Regions from separate parts of the Homo sapiens genome. Here all the other regions are linked to region 1. Evidence: fine-mapped expression QTL. A gene starts in region 1. Each other region holds a variant in brackets. All regions are shown on one strand. Distances are between the middles of the regions. Region 1 holds the start of EPB41L4A (erythrocyte membrane protein band 4.1 like 4A). Region 2 has its middle 85 kb from the start of LINC02200. Region 3 has its middle 92 kb from the start of LINC02200. Region 4 overlaps EPB41L4A (erythrocyte membrane protein band 4.1 like 4A). Region 5 overlaps EPB41L4A (erythrocyte membrane protein band 4.1 like 4A).

Region 1 (6,227 bases):
AATCCTAGCACTTTGGGAGGCTGAGGCGGGCGGATCATGAGGTCAGGAGTTTGAGACCAGCCTCGCCAGCATGGTGGAACCTTGTCTCTACTAAAAATACAGGGCATGGTGGCGCACTCCTGTAGTCCCAGCTACTTGGGAGGCTGAGGCAGGAGAATTGCTCCAACCCGGCAGGTGGAGGTTGTAGTGAGCCGAGATCGCGCCACTGCACTCTGATAGAGCGCGACTCTGTCTCAAAAAAAAAAAAAAAAAAAAGAAAGATGACAAAGTGCAGGAGGAAACCTTAGGGAGGGATGAATATGTGTACTAGCTTGATTATGGTGGTGGGTTCATGGGTGCACACTTATGTCAAAACTTATCAAATTGTACACTTAAAAATTATGCAGTGAACTGTATGTAAATTATATGCAATAAAGCTATCCTTAGAAACTCTGTGGAATCCTCTTGTCACTAGTAATCTCTAATTTTGTGTTAAATAGATTTTAAATGTTCTTTTCTCCAGTCTCCGATAAAGAAATGGAAAAGAAAATGCTTCACTCAGGAAAGAGTGTCATATGTATGGGACCTTATGGCTTTGTAACTTACCTTATGAGGAGCTGGGAACAGAATCCCTGCCCATCCAAAACCCTCAGCCTTCTCACTGCCACTGGAGGTAAAAAAACAAAAACAAACAACAGCAAAACCAAAAATCAGAAAGCAAAAAAACCAAATCAAAGGGCCAAAAAACAGGTGAGAGCAAAACTCAAAAAAACTGGGAACAGATGATTGCTTGAACCTTTTGTTTTTGCAGCCTCAAGTGTCTCGGTTGGATATGGAGGTAAAGAATGAAAATGTTAAGCCATCTTTCAATCACATTTGGTAACTCCTGTCAGGAATACTGTATTACAGAAAAGAAAAGCCTCTACAAGCAGAAATGCTAAAATCTAGCATAATAAGGTGTCACCTCATAAGGCAGGCAAGACTTTGACAATAAAACAAAGCTGGACACGAAATTTGATCAGAAATTCAAAACCTGAGTCAATTTCACAGAAAATTCAGAAGATAAAATAGTTTTATTCATAGCCTAGGTAAAGTTCAGAAATTTATATTGCACTTTGGCGGTTATGCTGATCCTGTGTTTGGATGGGGTCACAATAGCAGGGAAGGCCGAGGCTTCCTACAGAAGGTCCTTTGTGGCAAATCACTATGAGAGGAAACTCCATCAAAAGTCGCCAATTGTTCATTTCATTTCTACTGTGCTACGGAAGCCTGGTTTTGTTTTAAGGGCTAACGTCCTAGGTTTTAAGCAATTTTTTTTGAGCTTTGGCTACCCAGCTAACAAGCAGTAGAATAGTCAACTCAAAACTACGTCTGATGCCAAAGCTCTAACTCTAAAACTCAATATAGAGTTTTTTTTCTGTGACACCTCCCCTCGTGTCTCCCCTAACTGCGACTCGCATTAACTCGCTGCTGGTTCCCAGCTGGAGAGCACAGATTGCACCTGCTCCGAAGCCCAGCGGGGCTCAGTGTCGTCCGCAGCTCAACCTCGGCTGCCTGTGCACGGACATCGGGACCCACCAGGGGTCACTGCAGCTTCAGAGCTATTGTGCCCCTCAGTCCTGGACGCGGCCGACCGCGCGGAGGGCGTGGGATTGGGACCGCCGAACCGTGGGGTCCGAGCAGCACCGCGTCCTCTTCTCCCCACCCAGCCTCCAGGTCTCTCGGGGGAAGGACGCAGCGAGCGCTGGACTGCCCCGCGGCTTGGGCGCAGTGTGCGGCTTGGCAGCGTGGACTCGCCGGCACCTCGCCGCTGGGACCACGGTCTCTGCCCCGCCCTCCGCCCCCAGCTGATACCCCGCCCAGAAGGGGCTCCCCTGCCGCGGCCAGCGCTGGACTGGGGGGTCCGCTTCGTTCCAGGGCTTTTTGCAGACGCCTGGACCGGGCCCACATGCACCTGGGCTGCTCCCGCCCGGGGCGCCACCACTCGCGCGGCCAAGAGAACTTTCCCCGGAGCCTCTGCGGCCTGGCGCGCCCAGGGCGCACCCCCCGCTCGCCCGTCCGCCGCGTTCCCAGCTGGGGCGTCGCTCCTCCGCCCGCAGGTCCCCGCCTCCCCGCTTTGCTGAATGTCCTGAAGAAGCCGTATTCCGCCGCCGCGGCAGGCATTCCCGGAGGGAGAGCTTGAACTTGGCTACACACGGCCACCCGTAATGAGCTCGGGAGTCCCCGGACGGGAGCCACACCCCGCGACGAGCTGACCTCCCCTCGCTGGTCTGGGTAAGGAGCCTGCTGCCCTTTCCGCCTCTCTTCCGGCTCCTCGGCGCTTGCGGCTGGGGGACGGGGTAGCGGACGGAGCGACGACCTTCGCCTCTGCCCCTGCGCCCATGGTCGGGGCGTCGTGGGTGCTCCTCACACAAAAGAAAAGCCGAGCGCTTCATACTCGGCGGATCTGACCCGGGGCTGCGGGGCGGGGTCGCGGCTGGAAGTGCGCGCCCGCGGGGGACTCCGCAGGCCGATCGGACGCCAGGACGTCGGGGCCGCGCTCAAATCCGTGCGGCAGGAGGGAGGTGCAGCGCTTCCAGGGTTTTCCAAGGCCGGGGAGAGCCTCGAATTCCCATCACTCCTTTTTCTGGTCTCTTGCCCCCAGTGCCAGGAGACTTTTGTCGTCCCCAGGACTGCGGGAGGGGCCCCGCGCCCCCGCCTTCGGAGGAGCTCGAGCCGCAGGATGCGCGGGGACGCGCCACCGCCCTCCGCGCCCAGTTCCGCCGGCGCTTCCCCGGCGGCTCCCGGGCGCTGACTCTCCCGGGCTTTTCCGCCTTTCTCGCTCCCGCCCCGCCGGGCGGTTCGGCGGCCGGTCCCCGGACCCCGCCGGGAGCTGCTCGTCTCACCCTCGCCACGGCGCGGACAATAAATTAATGCATCGCGCTTGAGTGGAGGGGGCGGCTGGGCGCCTCGGTGGTAGCTTTCTCTCCTGGCTGGAGACGACCACAACCGACATGGGCTGTTTCTGCGCTGTTCCGGAAGAATTTTACTGCGAAGTTTTGCTCCTGGATGAATCCAAGTTAACCCTTACCACCCAGCAGCAGGGCATCAAGGTGGGTGCGGCCCGGAGCGCGTTCCGGGGGTTGGCGGCAGGGCGGGTGCGGGGGTCCATCGCTTTGAGGGCTGTCACCGGTGGGTCGAGGGCGGCGGCCGCGACTCTGCGCGGTGGGGAGGAGAGGCCGCTGTCCCCTGCGCGCAGGGAGAGGGTGGACGTACCAGGGTGAGTTAACTTTGAGTTCCTTCATAAAGCAAAGTTGAGTTTGACGTTTCTAAGTTTACTCAGCACACCGGCTCCCAGCAGCACCCCAAAACTCTTCCCCAAACCGGTTTTCTCCAAAAGCCTCTGGGTGCCCCGCAGCTCTCAAAGAGGGGCAGAATGGGTTATACCAGCTGCGTCCCACCAGTGTGGAAGGCATGGTTTCCCTCGACTTTGTTGAAGGCGTTTTCCTTGACAGTGTTATTAGGGAAGTGAACTAGTTCACTCGTTGAAACGCATTAATGGGTCATTGTGATTGTTTTGCGTGGGTTCGTAGTTGGGTAATGCTACGTTTGGACGGAAAATATTTTCCCTTTCTACAGCGACCTGGGTTTATCCTCACATTTAAGTAAACATCTCTCAAAGCGACCCAGTAATAACTTTGCTCCTGTTTGTGGGTCATTAAAATGCAATCACTACATTAACCTAGAGAGCCCAAACAAAAAGGCAGCAGAGCTCGCAGAGATCCTCTTCCTTACATTGGATGAGAAGGTACGTATGTTTGTAGTGACAACCTGACCGACGCGCCTGCGTGCTTGTTTTGCTTTTGCAACAGTGTTAACTACCTAAAGGAGATCTAAATCCGGAGCGTTTTGTTGTTTTGTTTATCTTTCTCTTTCAGTTTTAGATCGCTAAGGCATTTTAGATAAGGCAACAGCTGAGTCTGGTGAAGGGAAACCGCCCCCCCGCCCCCGCTCTGATAGAGCTGGCTTTCTGAGAAATCGAGTTCAGGCTGCCAAGTATCCTCTCTTAGTCGCTTCATCTCAGAAGTTAATCATAATGGGGTAGGCCCTGGGCATTTCCTTTTGTGAATCAGTTTTTACATAGTTTTATGCACACTAGGATAACTATTCCTGGCTAAAAGTTTCAGCGTTAATGTTGCCATTCTTAGTGTACAGAATTCCAGTTTCATAGGTGTAATTCTTTTGCGGGAGAAAGGAGCAAAAATAATCAGTTAAAGCTACAAGATTGTTAACCCTTTCCTTTAGGAGGTTGTTTTGAATATTGTTTCCCCAGTAATTATACTGAGCAAAATTCAGTTCGATTCTCATTCGGTATTTCCTTTCAAGACCAATAAAATAGACTCTTTTCGGGGAGGGTGTACATTTTGTATTTTTAACTTTTCTTTATGTTCCAAAATATTTCTCCTCTCACCCGCCCAATGAAATCAGGAAAATATTGTAACTTACAAGATGATGTAACATTCTTTGGTGTACTGTATGAATAAAATAGGCAAAAATCACAAAAACATCCTAAATTGTAGATAATATATAGATTCTTGTGTCGAGATAGAAACAATTAGAAAAAGGTAACTGATGATCAGATACTAAGACAGTAAAGAAATCTTTTTGAAGTGCAAAGTCTAAATTATCTGGAGTCTAAAGTCATCTGGAATGTGAGCTTCCTATTTAATCATCAAAGTCATGCCTATCAGCTGTAGAGCGTGTACATTATTCTGTCAAGAGAGCAGCCAGGACTTGGGATCAAATGGAATAATTTTGTCAAAGAAACATGAATCAAAAATCCTGATCCATAATTATTTTTTATAATCCAGTGGTGCTTATCTTGTTTTACAAATGGGCTGAAAATTGGTGAGTGATTCAAAGGCAACAGCAACTATGTAATACTGTTACTTTGGATATGGGCCATATAACTAAACAATAATTTAAGCAGGCTGTTGTTGGAAATAATCATTTAACAACAGGCTTGGCCTCTGTCCTTGTCACAAAAGCATGCCACAATTATTTTGATGGCCATGTGTGTAACACAGATGTTGTCTGCTAAAGCTAATCACATTATCTTCTATGCTACCTTAAAAGTGTATGTGTTAAACACCTACCCACCCTTGGCGTGTACTAAATTAAATATATTTGCATATTTATAAATGGTGTGTATAAAAAAACTTGCATGTAGAGGTATTCAAACATTGGATGAACATGTTTATGTTCTGTACATACTTGACATTTTAAAAAACTTTTTCCTAACCTTCCTGTATTATGGTGCATAGGTACAATTGATGTGTGTTGCATTAATTACTTAAAATTAACTCCTACTTTAGTTTGTAAATGAAAAAGTAAACAGTTACTTCAAAGTTAATAGCCAGTAGCTACCATTATGGTGTTTTTCCTTGAGATAGTATACTTAGTAATTTTGATTACCACTAATTAAAGTCAAAATTAAGCAGGCAACATCAATTAGCCTACTGTTCTCTGAAATTAACTAGAAAAATCTCTATTTTTCAAAAGCATTTCCTAACATTTATTTTGTGATTATCCTTTTTCCTATTCTATCTTAGATGAAGATGGCTAATTTTACATTAAAATTATGCACACATTTCATCTCTTAGTAGAAATAATTTTACTGATTCCTAAATGGTTACTTGAGAATTTGCTTGTATTATTGTTACAGTAATGCACTGTGAATTAGAAAAGATTAATTATAGCAAGTTAAGGTGGAAGAAATATGAGAGAATCTTGGTAAACATTTTTTCTGTGTATCATTTTGAAAAACATTCTTTGGATTTATTTAAGCACCAAATTACAAATAGAAAAGTTAGTTTTGAAGTGATTTTTCTTCAACTTAGATAAAGTTTTTCATCGATGTTAGAAAAAAAATTAATGTGTCATCATGAAAAGTGTTTCAGCCTGAAGACAACAGTTACTCATCTTATATGGTAAGATGAATATCAGTTAAATGGAAAATAATTTTATTTCCATTTAATTTCCATTTAAATGGAAAATAATTTTCTGTTAAAAAAAAAATACCAGAAAAATAAAACACAGTATCTTTGCATCCCTGTTAATGTTACGGAGGTATTTGCCTTTTTTACTTGCTTTAGGGGCAACCTCACCTTGATAGCAGAAAGTCTTATTCATGCAGTTCACAGTTTGAACCTTATCCGAGATTTAAAAACTCAAGTTTACATAAGCTGAGAGCTATTGGTTGTGTGTTG
Region 2 (6,227 bases), 120 kb before region 1:
AAGCAATTATCAATTCCTACAAAATAAATATGGAATATCTGATCTTAGTATATCTTGTTTTTATTTCTCTAGAGAATTGGCAAAAGATTTCTCCCATATTTATTGGTAGCAGAGAAATTCAAGCTAGGTGCTCGCAGCCAGAAGCTTGTGGCTGGTCACTATGAAATCCGCACAGCTTACTCAGATTACTTTGAAGGGTTTTACAATGGGTTTTATTTTATTCTCTACCTTGTCATGGCCAGATCAGAACGCCTCTTTGAATACTAAATGGTGACTTCCTGCTCTCAACACTGTCTAACTTAAAACACAAATAAGAAGATGCAGCTAGAGACAGGTGAAGAAGGAAAAGAAAAAAAAAGCTGTTGGATGAAGGGTATCCTTTTAGTTTTATGCGTGTGTTGGGATCTGGCCCAACACTAGTCTTAGGAGTTCAGACACTTGGAAATGCTTCCACATCGGGAAGCGGAGATGAGAATGAGAAAAGTAAAGCTCATCCATTTCATGTCTTGAGCTACTTGCTCATGTACAGTGCATGGTTCCAGGGAAAGCAGACACACAGGCACAAGAAGTAACCTGACTAAATTGTGCTTATGAGTTTACATTGGTAGTGAGGACAGTGTCTGAGAGACTGCTCTCTGGAGGACCAGAGGCTGGCCAAGAGGCTTGAGAGGGGAATGGATTTTGAGCCCCTGCGCATGAATGAAGAATTCAAAGGTGGTTGTCAAGCCAGTGCAAGAGGATCGCTTGAGACCAGGAGTTCAAGACCAGCCTGGGCAACATAGCAAGACCTTGTCTTTCCAAATAAAAAATAATTAGCTGTACATGGCAGCATGCACCCGTAGTCCCAGCCACTTGGGAGGCTGAGGACAGAGGAATGCTTGAGCCCAAGATGTTAAGCCTGTAGTGAGCTGTGATTGCATCACTGCACCAAGGAAAATGGTGCTAAACCATTCACACAAAGTCTATCCATATGATCCAGTCATCTCCCACTAGGCTCTACCTCCAACACTGGAGATTATATTTCTTTCTTTTTTGTTTGTGAGTTTGATTTTTTTTTATTATACTTTAAGTTCTGGGATACATGTGCAGAATGTGCAGGTTTGTTACATAGGTATACATGTGCCATGGTGGTTTGCTGCACCCCTCAACCTGTCATCTACATTAGGTATTTCTCCTAATGCTACTCCTCCCCTTACCCCCTACCCCCCAGCAGGCCCCGTTTTGTGATGTTCCCCTCCCTGTGTCCATGTGTTCTCATTGTTCAACTCCCACTTATGAGTGAGAACATGCAGTGTTTAGTTTTCTGTTCCTGTGTTAGTTTGCTGGGAAGGATGGTTTCTAGCTTCATCCATGTCCCTGCAAAGGGTATGAACTCATTCTTTTTTATGGCTGCATAGTATTCCATGGCGTATATGTGCCACATTTTCTTTATCCAGTCTATCATTGGTGGGCATTTGGGTAGATTCCAACTCTTCGCTATTGTAAATAATGCTACAATAAATATATGTGTGCATGTGTCTTTAGGGTAGAATGACTTAGAATCCTTTGGGTATATAACCAATAATGGGATTGCTGGCTCAAATAGTATTTCTGGTTCTAGATCCTTGAGGAATCACCACACTGTCTTCCACAATGGTTGAATTAATTTACACTCCAACAGCAATGTAAAAGCTGTTTCTCCACATCTTCTCTAGCATCTATTGTTTCCTGACTTTTTAATGATCACCATTCTAACTGGTGTGAGATGGTATCTCATTGTGGTTTTGATTTTCCAGTGTCATCCACCAGTAATGATGAGCTTTTTTTCATATGTCTGTGGCCGCATAAATGCCTTATTTTGAGAAGTGTCTGTTCATATCCTTTGCCCACTTTTTGATGGGGTTGTTTTCTTCTCAAAAATTTGTTTAAGTTCCTTGTAGATTCTGGATATTAGCCCTTTGTGAGATGGATAGATTGCCAAGATTTTATCCCATTTTGTAGGTTGCCTGTCCACCCTGATGATACTTTCTTTTGCTGTGCAGAAGCTCTTTACTTTAATTAAATCCCATTTGTCAATTTTGGCTTTTGCTGCCATTGCTTTTGATGTTTTATTCATGAAGTCTTTGCCCATGCCTATGTCCTGAATGGTATTGCCTAGGTTTTCTTCTAGGATTTTTATGGTTTTAGGTCTTATGTTTAAGTCTTTAATCTATCTTGAGTTAATTTTTATATATGGTTTAAGGAAGGGGTCCACATTCAGTTTTCTGCATATGGCTAGCCAGTTTTCCCAATACCGTTTATTAAATAGGGAATCCTTTCCCCATTGCTTGTTTGTGTCAGGTTTGTCAAAGATCAGATGGTTGTAGAGGTGCAATGTTATTTCTGAGGCCTCTGATCTGTTCCATTGGTCTATATATCTGTTTTGGTACCAGTATCATGTTGTTTTGGTTACTGTAGCCTTGTAGTATAGTTTGAAGTCTGGTACTGCGATGCCTTTAGCTTTGGTCTTTTTGCTTAGGATTGTCATGCTATACTGGCTTTTTTTTGGTTCCACATGAAATTTAAAGCAGTTTTTTCTAATTCTGTGAAGAAAGTCAATGGTAGCTTGATGGAAATAGCACTGAATCTATAAATTACTTTGGGCAGTATGGCCATTTACACGATATTGATTCTTCCTATCCATGACCATGGAATGTTTTTCCATTTGTTTGTGTCCTCTCTTATTTCCTTGAACAGGGGTTTGTAGTTTAAGAAGTCCTTTACATCCCTTGTAAGTTGTATTCCTAGGTGTTTTATTCTCTTTGTAGCAATTGTGAATGGGAGTTCACTCATGATTTGGCTTTCTGTTTGTCTGTTATTGGTGTATAAGAATGCTTGTGATTTTTGCACATTGATTGTATATCCTGAGACTTTGCTGAAGTTGCTTATCAGCTTAAGGAGATTTTGGGCTGAGACGATGGGGTTTTCTAAATATACAATCATGCCATCTGCAAACAGAGACAATTTGACTTCCTCTCTTCCTATTGAATACGCTTTATTTCTTTCTCTTGCCTGATTGCCCTGGCCAGAACTTCCAATACTATGTTGAACAGGAGTGGTGAGAGAGGGCATCCTTTTCTTATTCCAGTTTTCAAATGGAATGTTTCCAGCTTTTTCCCATTCAGTATGATATTGGCTATGGGTTTCTCATAAATAGCTCTTATTATTTGA[G/C]ATATGTTCCATCAATACCTAGTTAATTGAGTGTTTTTAGCACGAAGAGGTATTGAATTTTGTTGAAGGACTTTTCTGCATCTATTGAGATAATCATGTGGTTTTTGTCATTGATTCCGTTTATGTAATGGATTACATTTATTGATTTGCATATGTTGAACCAGCCTTGCATCCCAGGGATGAAGCCAACTTGGTCACGGTGGATAAGCTTTTTGATGTGCTGCTGGATTTGGTTTGCCAGTATTTTATTGAGTTTTTTCACATCAGTGTTCATCAGGGATATTGGCCTGAAATTTTCTTTTTGTGTTGTGTCTCTGCCAGGTTTTGTTATCAGGATGAAGTGGGCCTTATAAAACGAGTTAGGGAGGAGTCCCTGTTTTTCTATTGTTTGGAATAGTTTCAGAAGGAATGGTACCAGTTCCTCTTTGTACCTCTGGTAGAATTTGGCTGTGAATCCATCTGGTCCTGGTCTTTTTCTGGTTGGTAGGTTATTAATTACTGCCTCAATTTCGTAACTTGTTATTGGTCTATGCAGGGATTTGACTTCTTCCTGCTTTAGTGTCAGGAGGGTGTATTTGTCCAGGAATTTATTCATTTCTTCTAGATTTTCTAGTTTATTTGCATAGAAGTGTTTATAGAATTCTCTGATGGTAGTTTTTATTTCTGTGGGATCAGTGGTGATATACCCTTTATCATTTTTTTGTTGTATCTATTTGACTCTTCTCTCTTTTCTTCTTTATTAGTCTGGCCAGTGGTCTAGCTATTTTGTTAATCTTTTCAAAAAACCAGCTCCTGGATTCATTGATTTTTTTTGAAGGGGTTTTTGTGTCTCTATCTCCTTGAGTTCTGCTCTGATCTTAGTTATTTCTTGTCTTCTGTTACCTTTTGAATTTGTTTGCTCTGCTTTCTAGTTCCTTTAATTGTGATGTTAGGGTGTCAATTTTAGACCTTTCCTGCTTTCTCTTGTGGGCATTTAGTTCTATAAATTTCCCTCTAAACACTGCTTTAGCTGTGTCCCAGAGATTCTGGTATGATGTGTCTTTGTTCTCATTGGTTTCAAAGAACTTAATTATTTCTGCCTTAATTTCGTTATTTACCCAGTAGTCATTCAGGAGCACGTTGTTGTTCAGGTTCCATGAGGTTGTGCAGTTTTGAGTGAGTTTCTTAATCGTGAGTTTTAATTTGATTCCACTGTGGTCTGAGAGACTGTTTCTTATGATTTCTGTTGTTTTGCATTTGCTGAGGAGTGTTTTACTTCCAATTATGTGGTCCATTTTAGAATAAGTGCTATGTGGTGGTGAGAAGAATGTATATTCTGTTGATTTGTGATGGAGAGTTCTGTAGATGTCTATTAAGCCCACTTCGTCCAGAGCTGAGTTCAAGTCCTGAATATCCTTGTTAATTTTCTGTCTCATTGATCTGTCTAATATTGACAGTGGGGTATTAAAGTCTTCCACTATTATTGTGTGGGAGTCTCTAAGTCTCTTTGTAGGTCTCTAAGGACTTGCTTTATGAATCTGGGTTCTTCTATATTGGGTGCATATATATTTAGAATATTTAGCTCTTCTCGTTGAATTGATCCCTTTACCATTATGTAATGGCCTTCTTTGTCTCTTTTGATCATTGTTGCTTTAAAGTTTGTTTTATCAGAGACTAGGATTGAAACCCCTGCTTATTTTTGCTTTCCATTTGCTTTGTAAATATTCCTCCATCCCTTTATGTTGAACCTATGTGTGTTTTTGCACATGAGATGGGTCTCCTGAATACAGCGCACCAATGGGTCTTGACTCTTTATCCAATTTGCCAGTCTGTGTTTTTTAATTAGGGCATTTGGACATTTACATTTAAAATTAATATTGTTATGTGTGAATTTGATCCTGTCATTATGATGCTAGCTGGTTATTTTGTACATTAGTTGATGCAGTTTCCTCATAGTGTCGATGGTCTTTACATTTTGCTATGTTTTTGCAGTGACTGGTACTGGTTTTTCCTTTCCATATTTAGTGCTTCCTTCAGGAGCTCTTATAAGGCAGGCCTGGTGATGACAAAATCCCTCAGCATTTGTTTGTCCCTAAAGGATTTTATTTCTCCTTCACTTTTGAAGCTTAGTTTGGCTGTATATGAAATTCTGGGTTGAAAATTCTTTTCCTTAAGAATGTTGAATATTGGCCCTCACTCTCTTCTGGCTTACAGGGTTTCTGCAGAGAGATCTGCTGTTTGTCTGATACACTTCCCTTTGTAGGTAACCTGACTTTTCTCTCTGGCAGCCCTTAACATTTTTTCCTTTATTTCAACCTTGGTGAATCTGACAATTATGTGTCTTGGGCTTGCTCTTCTCGAGGAGTATCTTAGTGATATTCTCTGTATTTCCTGAATTTGAATGTTGGCCTGTCTTGATAGGTTGGGGAAGTTCTCCTGGATAATATCCTGAAGTGTGTTTTCCAACTTGATTCCATTCTCCCCATCACTTTCAGGTACACCAATCAAACATAGATTTGGTCTTTTCACATCATCCCATATTTCTTGGAGGCTTTGTTCATTCATTTTCATTCTTTTTCTCTAATCTTGTCTTCACACTTTATTTCATTAAGTTGATCTTCAATCTCTGATACCCTTTCTTCGCCTTGATCAATTCGGCTATTGATACTTATGTATGCTTCATGAAGTTCTTTTGCTGTGTTTCTCAGCTCCATCAGGTTATTTATGTTCTTCTCATACCGGGTTACTGTGGTTAGCAGTTCCTGTGACATTTTATGAATGTTCTTAGCTTCCTTGCACTGGGTTAGAACGTGCTTCTTTAGCTCAGAGGAATTTGTTATCACCTACTTTCTGAAGGCTCCTTCTGTCAGTTCGTCAAACTCATTCTCCATCCATTTTGTTCCCTTGCTGGTGAGGGGTTGTGATCCTTTGTAGGAGAAGAGGCATTCTGGTTTTTGGAATTTTCAGCATTTTTGCACTTGTTTTTCCCCATCTTCATGGATTTATCTACCTTTGATCTTTGATGATGATGACCTTTGCGTAGGGTATTTATGTGGATG
Region 3 (6,227 bases), 120 kb before region 1:
AGAGAGAAGGAATCTAGAGAGGCAGTCTGGCTACAGCAGCTTTGCTGTGCTTCAGTGGGCTCTGCCCAGTTTGAACTTCCCAGTGGCTTTGTTTACACTGTGAGGGGAAAACTGCTACTCAAGCCTCAGTAATGGTGGATGCCCCTCCCCCCACCAAGCTTGAGCATCCCAGGTCGACTTCAGACTGCTATGCTGGCAGCGAGAATTTCAAGCCAGTGATGGTAGCCTGCTGGGCTTCATGGGGGTGGGATCCACTGAGCTAGACCACTTGGCTCCCTGGCTTCAGCCCCCTTTCCAGAGGAGTGAACAGTTTTGCCTTGCTGGCATTCCAGGCACCACTGGGGTATGAAAAAGAAAAAACTCCTGCTGATAGCACAGTGTCTGCCCAAACGGCCACCCAGTTTTGTACTTGAAACCCAGTGTCCTGGTGGTGTAGGCACCCGAGGGAATCTCCTGGCCTGCAGGTTGTGAAAACCATGGGAAAAGCCTAGTGTCTGGGCCAGACAGCGCTGTCCCTCATGGCACAGTCCCTCAAAGCTTCCCTTGGCTAGGGGAGGCAGTTCCCCAACCCCTTGCACTTTCTGGGTGAGGCAATGCCCCACCCTGCTTCTGTTCACCCTCTGTGGGCTGCACCCACTGTCTAACCAGTCCCAGTGAGATGAGCTTGGTACCTCAGTTGGAATTGCAGAAATCACTCACCTTCTATGTTGGTCTCACTGGGAGCTGCAGACCGGAGCTGCTCCTATTCAGCCATCTTTGAGATTACATTTCAACATCAGATTTTGGGGAGACAATCAAACCATATCACCAGCCTAGATTATATTTGTCTTTACAGCAGTTCAGTCAGTGGTACAAACAACTTTTAATATTATTTTAGGGAGGAAGCAACTCATAAAGGCAAATGTACCCAGGGCCCATGGAAGTCATAATATAGTTCTGATAACAACTTTTCTATGATCTTAATTTTATGGATGAGAAAACTGAAGCATGCTTAAGTGTCTTGCCCAGTGCTACACAGCTGGCAACTGGCAGAGCTGAAACTCGTGTCTAGGCACTCTAATTCCAGTGTTTCACAGAACACTGTCCTCAGCTCTGCAGATTTGCTTTTCAATGGAGTATTTCACATGAATTTTCCAGATAATTAAAAACAGCTCTCTACAAAACCAAAACATTTTGTTTTAATAATTTTGGATGAAGATCTTCCATACCTTTGTTATTTACTTTCCTGCCTTATTAATTAGATCATCCTGAACATAAGGTCGTCTTTTTCATGATGATGGTATTTTTGTCCATAGCTAGTCTTTATTGAATGTTTTTTATGTACCTGCACTATTCTATGATTTTTGCATGTATTAACTAATTGAATTCTCACAACCCTATGAGGCAGAGTTTACAGATGAGGAAACCAATGTTAAGTGAGATTAAGGTACTTAACCAAGTTCACCCAGCTGTAAGGTAGCAATTGGATCCTGGCTACAAAGCTGAGCCTCTTAACCAGGGTGTAAGAGGAGCTTTGTGTTGTGCAGTGCAGAGTGCTGCTCTCAGGAGCTTTATTTGTACCCCTAATAGCTTCAGAATAATAGATTACTTTAGGCCTGTGTCCACTTTTCAGGACATGTCCTCTCTCCCTGTCAGGTAGTTGGCTGATAATTCTAGCTGTTTTGTTTCTAATTTGTTTCTCAATAAATTTGTGGAGTGCCTACTATGTGCCAGGTATTGTCCTTACTTGCCGCTTCCAAATTACTTTAATGGAAGAACCAGAGAGCCCATTATTTTAGCTTTGTGTGTTAAGTATTGTTAATATGTGCTGTATGAAAAGGTGCCCCATTCATCAGCCTTGTGATCCTTATTGCCTGGCCTTGTGAGATTGGTTTTAGATGCCTTGAGGGCTTTTGTGTGTTAATGTTTATTTCTTGGCTTTCAGCTAAATTTTCAGTAGTGAGCACTGGTAAGTGGCATGGTAGATATTATTATATGTAAGGAGAAAGTACTTGGCATGATACTGTAATTCAGCAAGTGGCTTGACAGAATTCATTCACCTGCTTCTGTGCAGTGTCTTCATGGTCTTTACTGAATAGTGTTACAGATGATTTAAATGGAACATAAGACTCCATTGGGCTGTTCTGGATTATTCTTTCCTTAAGGCTCAATGTTCATTATGAAGCCTGAATTTGGGATGGACTTTATCTCCTTACATATATATCTGCCATCTCAATGTTTTTAATGTGAGAAGAAATGCTTTTTATTTGTCTTGACATCTGTTTCTACTGAAATGTCACATTACTGACCTTGTGGCCTTCATGGCTCCTTTAGAGTTTCATACTCCAATTGGCCATAGCTCTAGGATTTGAAGGCCACTCCCTGCCATTATTGTGATTATTTTCTATAAACCTAATTTCAGTTATTGGCCCTCGAAGCCCTCAGGAAGCATGCTACTACTCCCTACACCTTATTCTTTATGACCACCCCAGAATGCTGTGCCAACTGGGAATCAGTTTATAAACCTACAGAGGATTGATGGTTTCTGGGCCCTGCTGCTCAGTCATCATGGAAATCCCTGCAGCCCTTTGTAGACTCTGGAATATTAACTGACAATCTGCATAAGAGAAAAATAGCCAAAGGATGAGAAAATTTCATGAAACCTCTACATCTGTTTAAAAACAAACAAACGAACAATCTACCCTAGGCTATTACCTAAGTCAGAGTGTGCAAACAGGTTGAATTTAGGCCACAGACATTTTGTTTTGCCTGCATCTTAAACCTCAAACCTTTTCAATCAATTGCTTTCATTTAAAAATCAGGAAACTTCTCTAAAAATATTCTAGATTTTGAACTTCTTTTGAAAACTGGGTGATCTGACAACATTGGTCCCATGTTTCTGTGTAACAGTAATTGGCTGGACTTGGCAGCACCTGGCCACTGTGCACAGGGCTTGCCTTGCCCCCACTTGCTGCA[G/A]TCCATATTGCAGTCCACTTTGCTTATGTATTTTACTTGCCTGTTCCCTGGAGGCATTTGCTACCCCATGGGCATTGTATCCCGTAATACGAACCCATGAAGCTAAAAGCTCAAAAGTTCAGGTCCGCAATATCTCTGCTTAGTTTTCTGCTTAGTTAATACAATTTTAAGAAATTAATATTGAAAATACGTGCTCACAAAAATTAAAACACTGTATAAATATAGAAGTGTATACAGTAAAAACTACAAGACCAGTGACCTTGTTGATCCAACAATTCCCTTTCCTCTTTTCCCAGAAATAATACTGTTAACAGTATCTTTTCCATTCTATTTCTGCAAATATAATTCTTTATCCAACAACTGTTACCTATTTTTTGTCAGGCCATACGTGTATACAAATATTGGGTCCCACACATGTATAAAGAGTGATGTGGTATATTAAAGTAATTATCTGTGTAGTTAACAAAAAATCCTCTTGTTGAAATGTCTGAATAGTAGAGGAAAAATACTTTTTAATTATCTGGCTAATTGCCTCCATTAATCATCCTTTCATGTTCTTTCTTCATGGAATGAATTCATCCATTCAGTAGATATTTACTGAGTTCTGATTATGTTCAAAGCACTGTGCTAGACAAAGTGGGAATTACAGAGATAAACTAAAAACAAGATCAACAACATTACCGTAGGAAAGAGGTGATCAATTTTTGCCTCCCTCAAAAGAGATGAAGGTGTTGGATTTGGAATTAAACTTACTCTATTTTCAGTGGACCACGTCTAAAATGTGAGAGATTACAAAAGTCCCAGGAATGATCCAAACCTAATAGCTCAAAAGAAGTTTCAGCAGAGTGGAGGACCTGGGTGGTGCATAGATGGCAGGAGATAGACCCACCCAGCAGTGAGGCTGAGGTGAGTACAAGGGAGAGCTCAGTGATAAAGGAAGACCTCTGAGGATACTGGCCCCAAGATGTTTGGCTTGTGTTCAGGCAGATAAAAACCACCATGGGCACGGACTGTGAGTCTTCTTCTCTCCCAAGAAGATTTTGATGACAATTTTACTAAGATGAAGTTAAGATGAGACAGCAACAAAGGCAGAAATAAAATTAGAGATGTGCTTGCGAGAGATTTAAAGAGAAAGCAGAATTTTGCCCTTGAGGTCTTCTTAGTTATACCTCAGTTACCTAGAAATAATATATTTTTGTTGTTGGAACACTCTCCCTAATTACAGAATGATAAACAAAACAAAACAAAACAAAAAACAAAACAAACAAAACCCTGTCAATCTTTAAAGAAATGAACAACCAAAAAAGGGTTACCATAAGGACTTTTGTTTCCTCTGTAGATTTTCAGACAGTTGGGGCCTCTTGGAAATTATAGAAAACCCCTGTTTGTTCTAGATTGGCAGCCACTGCAAATGTATGTAATGAAGGCACGGAGCAAGCAGGCCTCATGGAGCGGAATGATAAGGTGGTATAATTTGTCCCTCACTTTCCTTTTATATTTATTCAATGGGGAAAGTTTTCCCTTGGCTCTTGGATAAAAAACATCAGCAGTCCTATGGCTTTCCTTAACACACTTAACTAATAAAACGATTGCCACTCTTAGTCACCAAGCACAGTCTCAATTCGGAAGTCAAAATTTCTCATCCCATATAAGGCAAAACTCTGAACCTGATTCAAATATAAATCTTCCCTCCCCTACCAGGAAGCCTTCAACTGGAGGAGGGGTGTAGTTGGTTCCTTTTCCCTTCCTATGCCCTTCCTCCCCCAGCCTGATAATTGTGCTTTCTTAACCTTCCAGATCTGAAAGCAAAGAAAGAGAAGAATTAAAATAACCATGAGAGGTTTTACTTGACTGCTGCTACTACAAGGTGGCTTTGCAGCTCTTTTCCCAAGTTCTTGTCTTTTCCCATTCTGAACAATTCGGTCCTGAGCTGATTAGCTGATGCCCACCCAGATTGAGGGTGGGTCTGCCTCTCCCAGTCCACTGACTCAAATGTTAATCTCCTTTGGCAGCACCCTCACAGACACACCCAGAAACAACACTTTGCCTCCTTCAGTCCATTCAATATTAACTATTACAGTTGGCTATGGTGCCCAGAATGGGGTGTCAGAGCCCAAGTTGGGTGAGGAGGGCCTTGCCTCAGAGGGGTGCATTGGTGTGGCATGTCAGACCCCAAGCAGGCTGAGGAGGGCATCTGCACCAAGAAGGCTGTCCAGGGCCAGACACTGGAGTCAAATGAGTTGAGGTGGGTATTTGCATGGGAGTATGGGCTGCCTAAGGAAGCCAGAGCCTGTGCAAGGTGAAGAAAGTTCATGCCTTGTCACACATGGGGTGGCAGCCTGGTGCAGAGTTGGAACCCAAGGAGGAGGGTGGTCTTGTGGAGGGTATCAGAGCATGGACAGGGTGAGGAAGATGTCACTCCACACAGTGAGGCATGATATTGGCAACTTGCTTTCAAATAATTCTGGAAAAAGTTTTTAGTATTGTACATGCATGCTTCTGTAAGTTTGAGATTGTTTTTTTTTTTTTTTTTTAAAAAAAACCCACAACAATTTTCAAATATTCTCTGGCACTGGCGTGAGTTTAAAGGTAATGATTTCATAGATGCCATCATGTATTCTTTGGAGATTTCACTCCTTGTCCTCTCTCCACTTCCACACCATCTTCAAGGATCTCTCTGCAACTCTGTTCATGTGAATGGTGCCCTCTCATTCGGTGTGTTGCTTATTCCCTCTCCAATCCCTATGAGTCAGACTATGCCATCAGCTTCTCTCTACTGAGGACTTTGCCCTCCTAGGTAGCCCTATTGGACAGGATATAAGATGACCTCATGCCAGCTTTCTTGTGTGTGGTTCACATTTCTGTTATGTAAAATCCATGCATCTCTTGCTCTGACAAATTCTGTGTATGCAGGCCTATGTCAACCCAGCCATCTTTCCCTTGGCTTACCAGTCAGCTGCTGTCCAGCCTGTCTCTCACCCTTGAGTGCTCAGAGGGGAGTCACACTCAAGTGCAGTGTGTCCCCACCCCCAGACTTCAGGAAATACACATTAAGCTCTCTGAGAATTCCCTTTGATGCTTCTTCTTCTAAGTTGAGATGAAAAAACAAGCAATTCACATCCTATTCTTTTGCGAATGAGGTGGTAGAGGAACCCACAGCACATGCAGAGCTTTCAGAAGACATATCACTCTTCAAAAATCCCTTATTTTCATTTCCAGTAGCCAGATGCTTTTATATGCTCAACGTGGATGACGGATTTAAGAGCTGTGCA
Region 4 (6,227 bases), 57 kb after region 1:
TGCCCCACTGAGTTTCTCCATTAGAATACAAGTATTTATCTTACTTCCAGTGAAAATGTGCTCATGTCATGGTGTCTATCATGTAGGAATTTGGCAGTAATACCAGTATTACTGGCGAGAAATTAATACTCACAGCAATTCCAGATCAAGGCAATAAAACTGAAATTTAAATATTGTAACTCTAATGTGAATATCAATAAATGTTTTACACATAACAAATATTTGCATGAAAATATTGGCAGCTGGGTGTGGTGGTTCACGTCTATAATCCCAGCACTTAGGGAGGCCAAGGCAGATGGATCACCTGAGGTCAGGAGTTCGAGACCAGCCTGGCCAACATGGTGAAATCCCATCTCTACCAAAATACAAAAAATTGCCTGGCATGATGGCGGGTGCCTGTAATCCCAGCTACTCGGGAGGCTGAGGCTGAAGAATTGCTTAACCCAGGAGGCAGAGTTTGCAGTGAGCTGAGGTTGCGCCACTGCACTCCAGCCTGGGCAACAGAGCGAGACTCCGTCTAAAAATAAATGAATGAATGAATGAATAAATGAATGAAAGCAAATATTGGCACAGGATCATTATTACCTTTTCTAGAGTTGATACTGAATTTACTGCTTTTTGGAAAGTAAACTTCATTATTGACTATTTTTTGAATGCTACACTCTATAAACTTACATGAAAATATGGCATGAATGGTTTCAGTGTTTAAGTGAGTATTTGAAGTAGGGAAAACACTAACCTACAGTTTTAATAGAAACCGCTGAATGTGCATGCAGCTGTGTTATGTAACTGGTTAATAATCTTAAACTGTAAACTTAATATTTAAAAATTTAAGCTATCAGAATCATCAAATGGTAAGTGATGGTTTGAGACATCACTATGAAGCTGGAACTGGTGAGGTGGCTGAGACTGACCCCAAGATTGTGCAGGATCTCACATTGATGGTGGAGATGTTCCTGCAACATGTGTGAAATAAGTTTCAGAACATGTCTGACCAGATCATTGGAAAAATTGATGATATGAATACTCTCATTGATCTTGAGAAAAACGTCAAAGATCTCCCTTATAACACAGACTGAGGTGGAAGAACTGGAAGGTGAAAACAAGATACCTATCCTGCCTGGCTGATTTTTTTTTTTTTTTTTTTGTAGAGTCAAGGGTCTCACTATTTGCCTCAGGCTGGTCTTAGTGATCCTTCTACCTCAGCCTCTCAAAGTGTTGGGCATGATTTTTTTGTTTCTTACATCACCAGTCAGGATTGTTTGAATTGAAAATATATAATATGAAATAACTTGTCTTTTATAAGTTATATGGGGAACATAAAGGAATAAAATTCTTCTATAATAAAGTTACCACTCTTATTACCCAGCTGCAGAACCTCCTTTGATTAGGCCAGGAGGTGCTGCAGGGTTTAGCCCCTGAATGTCCCACTCACACTGGGCTCTGACTAGACCAGCTGAAACTTGTGTACAGGACATTTTCAAGCCTTGAAAGTGGCTAATGGAAATGATATGGCCAATTGCATTGTAAGAAGTCAGGACTCAGGTAGGAATTGGCTTCCTGAAGTAATAGATTTCAAGGGCAGGGTTTCTTGACCAAAAATATTTTCCAAAATAAAGGTTTCTGAAATCTTGCCTTTAAAAAAAAATAATAATAATCAAATAAAAATACATATAAAGCTACCTGCTACTTTTAGGAAACATCATAAGCCATCAGATCAGGTTTGAGATGAATCGTCAGACTTGATATTATTTATATTGCATTTATTTAAAAAATGATTTGTCTTTAGGATGTCAGTGTATTTAAGAGAACAGTAAAGTATTGTTAATGATTACTTTAGAGAACTTCAGTTTGGCACAGAAGACTTTTATCTGTTGTTCCTCAAGGTTTAATTTTGTGTGCTGTTGACATTAACTTTTATGGAATTGCTATTAATGATAAAGTGAGGCTAATGTTTTGGTTGACTTTTAAAATTAATGTTCTAAGTCTGGGTGCGGTGGCTCGTGCCTGTAATCCCAGCACTTTGGGAGGCTGAGGTGGGCGGATCACCTAAGGTCAGGAGTTTGAGACCAGCCTGGGCAACATGGTGAAATCCCGTGTCTACTAAAAATACAAAAATTATCTTGGCGCAGCAGCGCATACCTGTAATCCCAGCTACTCGGGAGGCTGAGGCAGGAGAATCGCTCGAATGTGGGAGTTGGAGGTTGCAGTGAGCCGAGATGGTGCCACTGCACTGCAGCCTGGGTGACAGGGTGAGACTCCATCTCAAAAAAAAAAAAAAAACATTAATGCTCTAAGCTGGGCATGGTGGCATGAGCCTGTAGTCCCAACCAGTTGCCAGGCTTAAGGTGGAAGGATTGCTTGAGGCCAGGAATTCAAGGCTGCTGTGAGCTATGGTTGTACTTGTACCACTGCACTCCAGCCTGGGTGACAGAATGAGATCCTGTCTCTGAAAACTAAATAAAATTAATGCTATGATTGTGTTACATACTTAAAATGGGATCCTTTGTCTAATGGTAGACTAGCCCTTTGGTTGGTATTGCCAACAAGACCAAGAATTTAAAATAGCTTATATCAATGGCTTGGTTTATCAAGAAGGAAGGAAAAAGGCTAACATAAGACTTTTTAGAATTAGATTCTCTTATTTTCTCTGATAATTACTTTTAATTTTTATTTATTTGAGACAGGGTCTTGCTCTGTTGACCAGGCTGAAGGCAGTGGCATGATCATGGCTCACTGCAACTGCTGCCTCCCAGGCTCAGTTGATCCTCCTGCCTCAGCCTCCCGAGTAAATGTGACCACAGGTGCACACCACCACACCCAGTCAGTTTATTATTATTATTATTATTATTATTTTTTTTTAGCATTTTTGGTGTTCTTTTTATTTTACTTCTACTATTTTTCTTTGGACTCAATCACAATAACAGAATTAAAGATCAAAGTGTAAAAGTTAAAGACCAGTACAGATTCAATAATTATTCTTTTCTACATACTGTGTTTAAATGATATCCCTTTTTCTTTTTATTCTTTTTTTTTTTTTTTAAGTATTTATTGATCATTCTTGGGTGTTTCTCGGAGAGGGGGATTTGGCAGGGTCATAGGACAATAGTGGAGGGAAGGTCAGCAGATAAACATGTGAACAAAGGTCTCTGGTTTTCCTAGGCAGAGGGCCCTGCCGCCTTCTGCAGTGTTTGTGTCCCTGGGTACTTGAGATTAGGGAGTGGTGATGACTCTTAACGAGCATGCTGCCTTCAAGCATCTGTTTAACAAAGCACATCTTGCACCGCCCTTAATCCATTTAACCCTTAGTGGACACAGCACATGTTTCAGAGAGCACGGGGTTGGGGGAAAGGTCATAGATTAACAGCATCCCAAGGCAGAAGAATTTTTCTTAGTACAGAACAAAATGGAGTCTCCTATGTCTACTTCTTTCCACACAGACACAGTAACAATCCGATCTCTCTTTCTTTTCCCCACACTTCCCCCCTTTCTATTTGACAAAACCGCCATCGTCATCATGGCCCGTTCTCAATGAGCTGTTGGGTACACCTCTCAGACAGGGCGGCTGCCGGGCGGAGGGGCTCCTCACTTCTCAGACGGGGCGGCCGGTCAGAGACGCTCCTCACCTCCCAGACGGAGTGGCGGCGGGGCAGAGACACTCCTCATTTCCCAGAC[T/A]GGGTCGAGGCAGGGCAGAGGCGCTCCTCACATCCCAGACGGAGTGGCGGGGCAGAGGCGCTCCCCACATCCCAGAAGATGGGCGGCCGGGCAGAGACGCTCTTCACTTCCTAGACGGGATGACGACCGGGAAGAGGCGCTCCTCACTTCCCAGACTGGGCAGCCGGGCAGAGATGCTCCTCACTTCTTAGACGGGGTGGCAGCCGGGCAGAGGCTGCATTCTCGGCACTTTGGGAGGCCAAGGCAGGCGGCTGGGAGGTGGAGGTTGTAGCGAGCCGAGATCACGCCACTGCACTCCAGCCTGGGCAACATTGAGCACTGAGTGAGCGAGACTCCGTCTGCAATCCCGGCACCTCGGGAGGCCGAGGCTGGCAGATCACTCGCGGTCAGGAGCTGGAGACCAGCCCGGCCAACATGGCGAAACCCCGTCTCCACCAAAAAATACAAAAACCAGTCAGGCGTGGCGGTGCGCGCCTGCAATCCCAGGCACTGGGCAGGCTGAGGCAGGAGAATCAGGCAGGGAGGTTGCGGTGAGCCGAGATGGCGGCAGTACAGTCCAGCCTGGGCTCAGCATCAGAGGGAGACCGTGCAAAGGGGAGAGGGGAGAGGGTCGAGGGTCAGTTTATTATTTGTAGAGACAGGGTCTTGCTGTGTTGCCCAGGCTGGTCTCAAACTCCTGGACTCAAGTGATCCTCCTGCCTCGGCCTCCCAAAGTGCTGGGACAGGCGTGAGCTATGGTGCCTGGCCTGATAATTACTTTTACAAATTGTTGGATTCCTATTGAATCTGTAGCTGGGGTTACAGGCATGAGCCACCATGCTTGGCCTGATAGTTACTTTTACAAATTATTGGATTTCCGTTGAATCTGTTAGCCTGGATAAAATATTTTTTAAAATGAAAAAAGCACATACACGTCAGTAATTATAGAGTTCTGATGAAAATTTTGTTTTGCAACATGTATGTTGAGATGGAAAGTGAAAATGCTGTATCATAATTATTCAGAATAAAGTAATAGATAACTTACCTTTAAAATAAACTCATCAAGACTTTTGGCTGGGCACAGTGGCTCACGCCTGTAATCCCAGCACTTTGGGAGGCCAAGGCGGGTGGATCACGAGGTCAGGAGATGGAGACCATCCTGGCTAACACGGTGAAACCCCGTCTCTACTAAAAATACAAAAAATTAGCTGGGCGTGGTGGCAGGCGCCTGTAGTCCCAGCTACTCGGGAGGCTGAGGCAGGAGAATGGTGTGAACCCGGGAGGCGGAGCTGGCAGTGAGCTGAGATCGCGCCACTGCACTCTAGCCTGGGCGACAGAGCAAGACTCCGTCTCAAAAAAAAAAAAAAGAAGACTTTCAAGGATATTTCTTCTATGTATCCTTGAATCTGAAGCAGGAAGTGAGTTTTTTCATATTCTAAACTCAATCAACAGTTGTTATTCCAACCATATTAACCTTAGGGGGAGCATTAGGAAGAAAAAGCTTTTGAAATCAGCTATATATTGGATAATTGGGTGCCTCTGGCTAGGCAGTTTCTCTCAGTTGGAAAGCAAGCACTCAACTGAAAATTTAGTGAATTTCTTATTTGTGTTCTTTACCTTTGTTGGATCACAGACCTATTAGAGAAATTGGGAAAGAAAACACACCCCTGGATTCTCTTCTAAGACATGTGTACATATACATAATATCTTTCAGGAACAGTTTTATTGAAGTAGAATATAAAGTATACAAATCTTAAATACATAGCTGAATGAGTTTTTACATATAGATATAGTTGTGTAAACACCATCCAGATCAAGAGGTAGGATATTTTCAGTACTCCAGGAAGTTCCCTTGGGTCCCTTTTCAAACAGTACCTACCCAGAGGTAAATTACTCTTCTGAATTTTAGCCCTTTAGGCTAATTTTGCCTATTTTGACATTGTATAAAAGGAATAATACAATATATATATTTTTGTGTCTGTTTTCTTTCACCTAGCATTGAAGTTTGTGATTCTTTTATGTTATTGTCTGTGGCAGAAGTTCTTTTTTTCTTTAACTTTTGTTTGGTAATTCATTTTGTGAATATACTATAATTTATCCATTCTACTGTCAGTGGACAGTATTTAGCTATCACAAATAAAGCTGCCCTGAACATTCTTGTATATATCTTTTGCTGGATATATGCACTCATTTCTTTTGTGTGTATACCTAGAAGTGGAATTGCTATATCATAGGGTAGGTGTATGTTTAGCTTTAGAAGGTACTGACAGCTATTTTTTAAAGTGGATATACCAGTTTCTACTCCAGCTAACAATCTGTGAGAATTCTAGTTGCTCTGCATCCTTGCCATTACTCAGTATCATCCAGCTGTTAAACTTTTGCTGTCCTGATGGGTGATCCTTTTTCTGTGATTGCAAGGGGATTCTAGATTTCCTAATAATCAACCATGGGTACGTATCAGGATCTTAGATTAAGAAATTCTTTTCTGGTTGACAGTTACAGTCTTTGTGAAATTATCTTTTCCAGTTTATCCAGAGTTCTATAGGACTAATCTGTAACATAGAAACTAAATT
Region 5 (6,227 bases), 120 kb after region 1:
TGTTACTTTTCCTTGGTAACTGTTCCATGGTTTAAATTATATTGAAAGACTGAGCCTCAGATTCCTATCTTCAACCCAGATGTTTCAGGAGGGACTACACTGTGTTAAAATTCAAAATCTGGATTCAGACTGTATGGGTTCAAACCACAGTCTACCTGGAGAGCTGTGTGGCATTGAGTGAGTCTCCCTAACTTTTCTATACTTCAGTTCCTCTGTTTATAAAGTGAAGATAGTAATAGTACCAGCTTCATAGGGTGGTAGTGATGATTGAAGGAATCTATAAAAAATACACAGACTAGTGCTTTAACATGTGTGGTCCACATAATGTTTTAGCTGTTGTTCACTACTCGGATGCCTCTCATGTATCTCAAAGGTAACATATTCAAAACTGAAGCCATCTTCCCCTCCAAATCTGCTCTTTTTAAAAAATGTTTCTGAGATCAGTGATTTTCAAGATTTTTTTTTCTTTTAGAGATGAGGTCACACTATGTTGCTTAGGCTGGTTTCAAACTCCTGAGCTCTAGTGATCCTCCTGCCTCAGCCTCCCAAAGTGCTAGGATTATAGGTGTGAGCCACCATACCTGGTCTATGAATTTTTTTAAAAAACCATGTACTCGTGTGTAATTTTAGGTTGAGAATTGAAATTTTGTAAGTTTTAGTAGATCCAGATCTTTGGTTTATCATAAATACTGACATTGTAAAATCAAATTGTCATATTCCTTTTAAATGTATCCTATGAATTTATATTTCATAGCAATTTTGTACTCTTCATCTACCTTTATAAAAATTTATGAACAAGCTCTTTTTTAAAAATCAGAAACATTTATTTATTCCTTTTATGTCGTTAAACTTGTATTCCTATTCTACTTTCTCCCTAAAATGTTATTATATTTTTATTAATAAAAAACATATATCCATAATATACATATAAATTGGAATTTTAAAAGTTTATTTCCTAAGATGTTAAGGCTCTAATTGTTGTTGAGCCCTAAAAGTAGTTGTTATTACCATGGTTGTCACTATACAATTAATTAAAACAGCAAAATACTATGCATTTTAATAATTATTAAACATATTTTCTATGGAAATTGACAGACAGGGGGCAGGACTAGATTGCAGTTCCCACTCGGACGGATCGTGCAGTGTGTAGAGACTTGCATTGTGAAATTTTGCTCCAGAACTACTGCAGAAATATACCAAGAAAGCTGAGAGAATCCACAGACCCTTTGAAGGAAGCAGATTGCTCCTGCAGGAACCCAGAGACACTGCAAATACTGTGCTGGTATCCATGGCTGAGAGACATGAAGATGGTTCACATCACAGGACTCTGTGCAGACAACCCCTAGTACCAGCCTGGAGTCTGGTAGCCCTGCTGGGTGGCTAGATCCAGAAGGAAATAACAGTCACTGCATCTCAGCTCTCAGGAAGCCACATTCCTAGGAAAAGGGGGAGAGTGCTACATCACGGGAACACCCCATGGGACAAAAGAATCTGAACAGCAGCCTTAAGTTCCAGATCTTCCATCTAACATAGTTTACTCAAAGGAGAAGGAACCAGAAAAACAATTCTGGTAATATGATAAAAGAATGTTCTTCAACACCACCCAAAAAATCATACTCTCTCATCAGCAGTGGATCTAAACCGAGAAAAAGTCCCTGATTGACCTGAAAAAGCATTTAGAAGATTGATTATTAAACCAATTAAGGAGGCACCAGAGAAAGGTGAAGTCCAATTTAAGGAAATCAAAAAAAATGATACAAGGAACGAGGGGAGGAATCTTCAGTGAAATAGATAGCATAAATAAAAAACAATCACAACTTCAGAAAATAAAGGACACACTTAGAGAAATGCAAAATGTTCTTGAAATTCTCAGCAGTAAGACTCGAACAAGCAGAATAAAGAACTTCAGATCTCGAAGATAAGGTTATCAAATTAACCCAGTCCAACAAAGACTAAGAAAAAAGCATTAAAAAAATGAACAAAACCTCCAAGAAATGTGAGATTACATTAAGTGACCAAATCTAAGAATAATTGGCATTCCTGAGGAGGAAGAGGAATCTAAAAGTTTGGAAAACATATTTGGGGGAATAATCTAGTACAGCTTCCCCAGCCTTGCTAAAGACCTAAACATCCAAATAGAAGGAGCTCAAAGAACACCTGGCAAATTGCAAAAAGATCATTACCTAGGCACATTGTCATCAGGTTAGCTAAAGTTAAGATGAGGGAAAGAATCTTAGTAGCTGTGAGGCAAAAGCATTAGGTAATCTATAAAGGAAAACCTATCAGATTAACAGCAGATTTCTCAGCAGAAACCCTACAAGGTAGAAGGGATTGGGTCCCTATCTGCAGCCTCCTTAAACAAAACAATTATCAGCCAAGAATTTTGTCTCCAGCAAAACTAAGCTTCATAAATGAAGAAAAGATAGTCTTTTTCAGGTAAACAAATGCTGAGAGAATTTGCCAGTCCTAAGACAGCACTATAAGAACTGCTAAAAGGAGCTCCAAATCTTGAAACAAATCCTGAAAACACATCAGTAACAGAACTTCCTTAAAGCATAAGTCTCACAGGACCTATAAAACAAAA[AT/T]ATAATTAAGAAAAAACAAGGTATACAGGCAACAAATAGCACAATGAATGGAATAGTACCTCATATCTAAATACTAATGTTGAATGTAAATAGCCTAAATGCTCCACTTAAAAGATACAGAATTGCAGAATGGATAAGAATTCACCAACCAGGTATCTGCTGCCTTCAAGAGACTCACCTAACATATAAGGACTCACATAAACTTGAGATAAAGGGATGGAAAAAGATATTCCATGCAAATAGACACCAAAAACAAGCAGGCATATGTCAGTCAAAACAAACTTTAAGAGTAGTTAAAAAAGACAAAGTAGGACATTATATAATGATAAAAGCCCTTGTGCAACAGGAAAATATCACAGTCCCAAATATATATGCACTTAACACGGGAGTTCCCAAATTTGTAAAACAATTACTACTAGACTTAAGTAATGAGATAGAGAGCAACACAGTAATAGTGGGGGACTTCAATACTGCACTGACAGCACTAGACAGGTCATCAAGATAGGAAGTCAGCAAAGAAACAATGGATTTAAGCTATACTCCAGAACAAATGGACTTAACAGATATTTACATAATATTCCTTAATAGAGATGGGGTTTCACCATGTTGGCCAGGCTGGTCTCAAACTCCTGAACTCAGGTGATCTACCTGCCTTGGTGCTGGGATTACAGGCGGGAGCCACCACGCCTGGCCATTTACAGAACATTCTACCCAACAACTTCAGAATATACATTTTATTCATCAGTGCATGGAACTTTCTCCAAAATAGACCATATGATAGGCCACAAAACAAGTCTGAATAAATTTAAGAAAACTGAAATTATATCAAGTACTCTCTCAGACCATAGTGGAAAAAATTCTTCAAACTGAATGATAATAGTGACACAACTATCAAAACCTCTAGGATACAGCAAAGGCAGTGCTAAGAGGAAAGTTCATAGCCTTAAATGCCTGTATCAAAAAGTCTGAAAGAGCACAACTAGACAATCTATGGTCACACCTCAAGGTACTAGAGAAACAAGAACAAACCAAACCAAACCCAACAGAATGAAGGAAATAACCAAGGTCAGAGCAGAACTAAATGAAATTGAAACAAAAAGAAATGCAAAAGATAAATGAAACAAACAGCTGGTTCTTTGAAAAGATAAATAAAATTGATAGACCATTAGCAAGATTAACCAAGAAAAGAAGAGGGAAGATCCAAATAAGCTCAATTAGAAATGAAATGGGGGATATTACAACTGACACCACAGAAATACAAAAGATCATTCAAGGCTACTATGAACACATTTACGTGCATAAACTAGAAAACATGGAGGATATGGATAAATTCCTGGAAAGAGACAACCCTCCTAGCTTAAATCAGAAAGAATTAGAAACCCTGAACAGACCATTAACAAGCAGTGAGATTGAAATGGTAATAAAAAAATTACCAACAAGAAAAAGTCCAGGACCAGATGGATTCAAGTTGAATTCTGCCAGACATTCAAAGAAGAATTAATACCAATCATATTGACATTATTCTTCAAGATAAAGAGGAAATCCTCCCTAAATCATTCTGTGAAGTCAGTATAACAAAGAAAACTACAGACCAATACCCCTGATGAACATAGATGCAAAAATATTTAACAAAATACTCGCTAACCAAATCCAACAGCATATACAAAAGATAATCCGCCATAATCAAGTGTGTTTCATACCAGGAATGCAGGGATGGTTTAACATACACAAGTCAATACATGTGAAACATCACATAAACAGAATTAAAAACAAAAATCACATGATCATCTCAGTAGATGCAGAAAGAGCATTTGACAAAATTCTGCATCCCTTTATGATTAAAACCCTCAGCAAAATTGGCATACGAGGGACATACCTCAATGTAATAAAAGCCATCTATGACAAACCCACAGCCAACATAATATGAACGGGGAAAAGTTGAAAGCAAATGGAAACACATTTCATGTTCGTGGATGGGTAGAATCAATAATGTGAAAATGACCATACTGCCAGAAGCAATCTATAAATTCATTACAATTTCCATCAAAATACCACCATCATTCTTCACAGAACTAGAAAAAACAATCCTACAGTTCATATGGAACCAAAAAAGAGCCTGCGTAGCCAAAGTGAGACTAAGCAAAAAGAACATAGCTGGAGGCATCATATTACCTGATTTCAAACTATACTATAAGGCCATAGTCACCAAAACAGCATGGTATTGGTATAAAAATAGGGACATAGACCAATGGAATAGAATAGAGAGCCCAGAAATTAACCCAAATACTTATAGCCAACTGACCATCGACAAAGCAAACAAAAACAAAGTGGGGAAATGGTGCTGGGATAATTGGCAAGTCACATGATGGAAAATGAAACTGGATCCTTATCTCTTGCCTTATGCAAAAATCAACTCAAGATGGATCAAGGACTTAGATTTAAGTCCTAAATCATTAAGACTTAAAACTATAAAAATTCTAGAAGATAACATTGGAAAAACCCTTCTAGACATTGGCTTAGGCAAAGATTTCATGACCAAGAACCCAAAAGCAAATGCAACAAAAATGAAGATAAATAGGTGAGACTTAATTAAACTAAAGAGCTTTTGCATAGCAAAAGGAACAGTCAGCAGAGTAAACAGACAGCCCACAGAGTGGGAGAAGATCTTCACAATCTATATATCTGACAAGGGACTAATATCCAGAATCTACAAGGAACTCAAACAAATAAGAAAGAAGCAATCCCATCAAAAAGTAGACTAAGGACATGAGTGGACAATTCTCGAAAGAAGATATACAAATGGTAACAAATACATGAAAAAACTCTCAACATCACTAATGATCAGGGAAATGCACATCAAAACCACAATGCAATACCACCTTACCCCTGCAAGAATGGCCATTATCAAAAAAATAAAAAAATAATAGATTTTGGCATGGATATGATGAAAAGGGAACACTTCTGCACTGCTGGTGGGAATGTAAACTAGTACAGCCACTATGGAAAACAGTGTGGAGATTCCTTAAGGAACTCAAAGTATAACTCCCATTTGATCCAGCAATCCCACTACTGGGTATCCACCCAGAGGAAAAGAAGTCATACGAAAAAGATACTTGCACACCCATGTTTATAGCAGCACAGTTCACAATTGCAAAAATGTGGAACCAACCCAAATGCCCATCAGTCAACGAGTGGATAAACTGTGGTGTGTGTGTGTGTGTGTGTGTGTGTGTGTATGTATGTATATATGTATGTGATGGAATACTACTCAGCCATAAAATGGAATGAATTAATGGCATTCACAGCAACCTTGATGATATTGGAGACTATTATTCTAAGTGAAGTAACTCAGGAATGGAAAAACAAATATTGTATGTTCTCACTCGTAAGTGGGGGCTAAGCTATGAGGATGCAAAGGCATAAGAATGATACAATGGACTTTGGAGACTCGGGAGGGAAGGGGTAGGAAGGGGGTGAGGGATAAAAGACTACAAATTGGCTTCAGTGTATACTGCTTGGGTGATGGTTGCACCAAAATCTCACAAATCACCATTAAAGAACTTATTCATGTAACTCAATACCTAACCTGTTCCCTAAAAACCTATGGAAAAAAATTATTAAACATAAAATATAAGTATTTAT

The links. PIP is the estimated chance that this variant, and not a neighbour inherited with it, causes the effect. A credible set is the group of variants that fine-mapping cannot tell apart.
Region 2: its variant is the best candidate, but not a certain one, in a credible set for the expression of EPB41L4A in blood mononuclear cells (TOPMed, PIP 0.60).
Region 3: its variant is the best candidate, but not a certain one, in a credible set for the expression of EPB41L4A in whole blood (TOPMed, PIP 0.83).
Region 4: its variant is the best candidate, but not a certain one, in a credible set for the expression of EPB41L4A in whole blood (TOPMed, PIP 0.67).
Region 5: its variant is the best candidate, but not a certain one, in a credible set for the expression of EPB41L4A in whole blood (TOPMed, PIP 0.77).

Annotation. Positions count from the first base shown.
Region 1 is chr5:112,415,785-112,422,011 of GRCh38, reverse strand. EPB41L4A (erythrocyte membrane protein band 4.1 like 4A) reads left to right here and starts at 2,735. Exons shown (of 23, transcript NM_022140.5): 1 at 2,735-3,071. The coding sequence starts at 2,973. It overlaps EPB41L4A-DT (EPB41L4A divergent transcript), which reads right to left and starts at 2,429. Exons shown (of 1, transcript NR_027706.1): 1 at 1,034-2,429. RefSeq lists a silencer at 1,981-2,070.
Region 2 is chr5:112,539,925-112,546,151 of GRCh38, reverse strand. No RefSeq gene overlaps it. Among named protein-coding and RNA genes, the nearest start is that of LINC02200, 85 kb to the left of the region's middle. The variant G/C (reference allele first, on the strand shown) is at 3,190.
Region 3 is chr5:112,533,190-112,539,416 of GRCh38, reverse strand. No RefSeq gene overlaps it. Among named protein-coding and RNA genes, the nearest start is that of LINC02200, 92 kb to the left of the region's middle. The variant G/A (reference allele first, on the strand shown) is at 2,956.
Region 4 is chr5:112,358,339-112,364,565 of GRCh38, reverse strand. The region is part of intron 1 of EPB41L4A (erythrocyte membrane protein band 4.1 like 4A); the gene reads left to right. Among named protein-coding and RNA genes, the nearest start is that of EPB41L4A, 58 kb to the left of the region's middle. The variant T/A (reference allele first, on the strand shown) is at 3,676.
Region 5 is chr5:112,296,584-112,302,810 of GRCh38, reverse strand. The region is part of intron 2 of EPB41L4A (erythrocyte membrane protein band 4.1 like 4A); the gene reads left to right. Among named protein-coding and RNA genes, the nearest start is that of EPB41L4A, 120 kb to the left of the region's middle. The variant AT/T (reference allele first, on the strand shown) is at 2,585.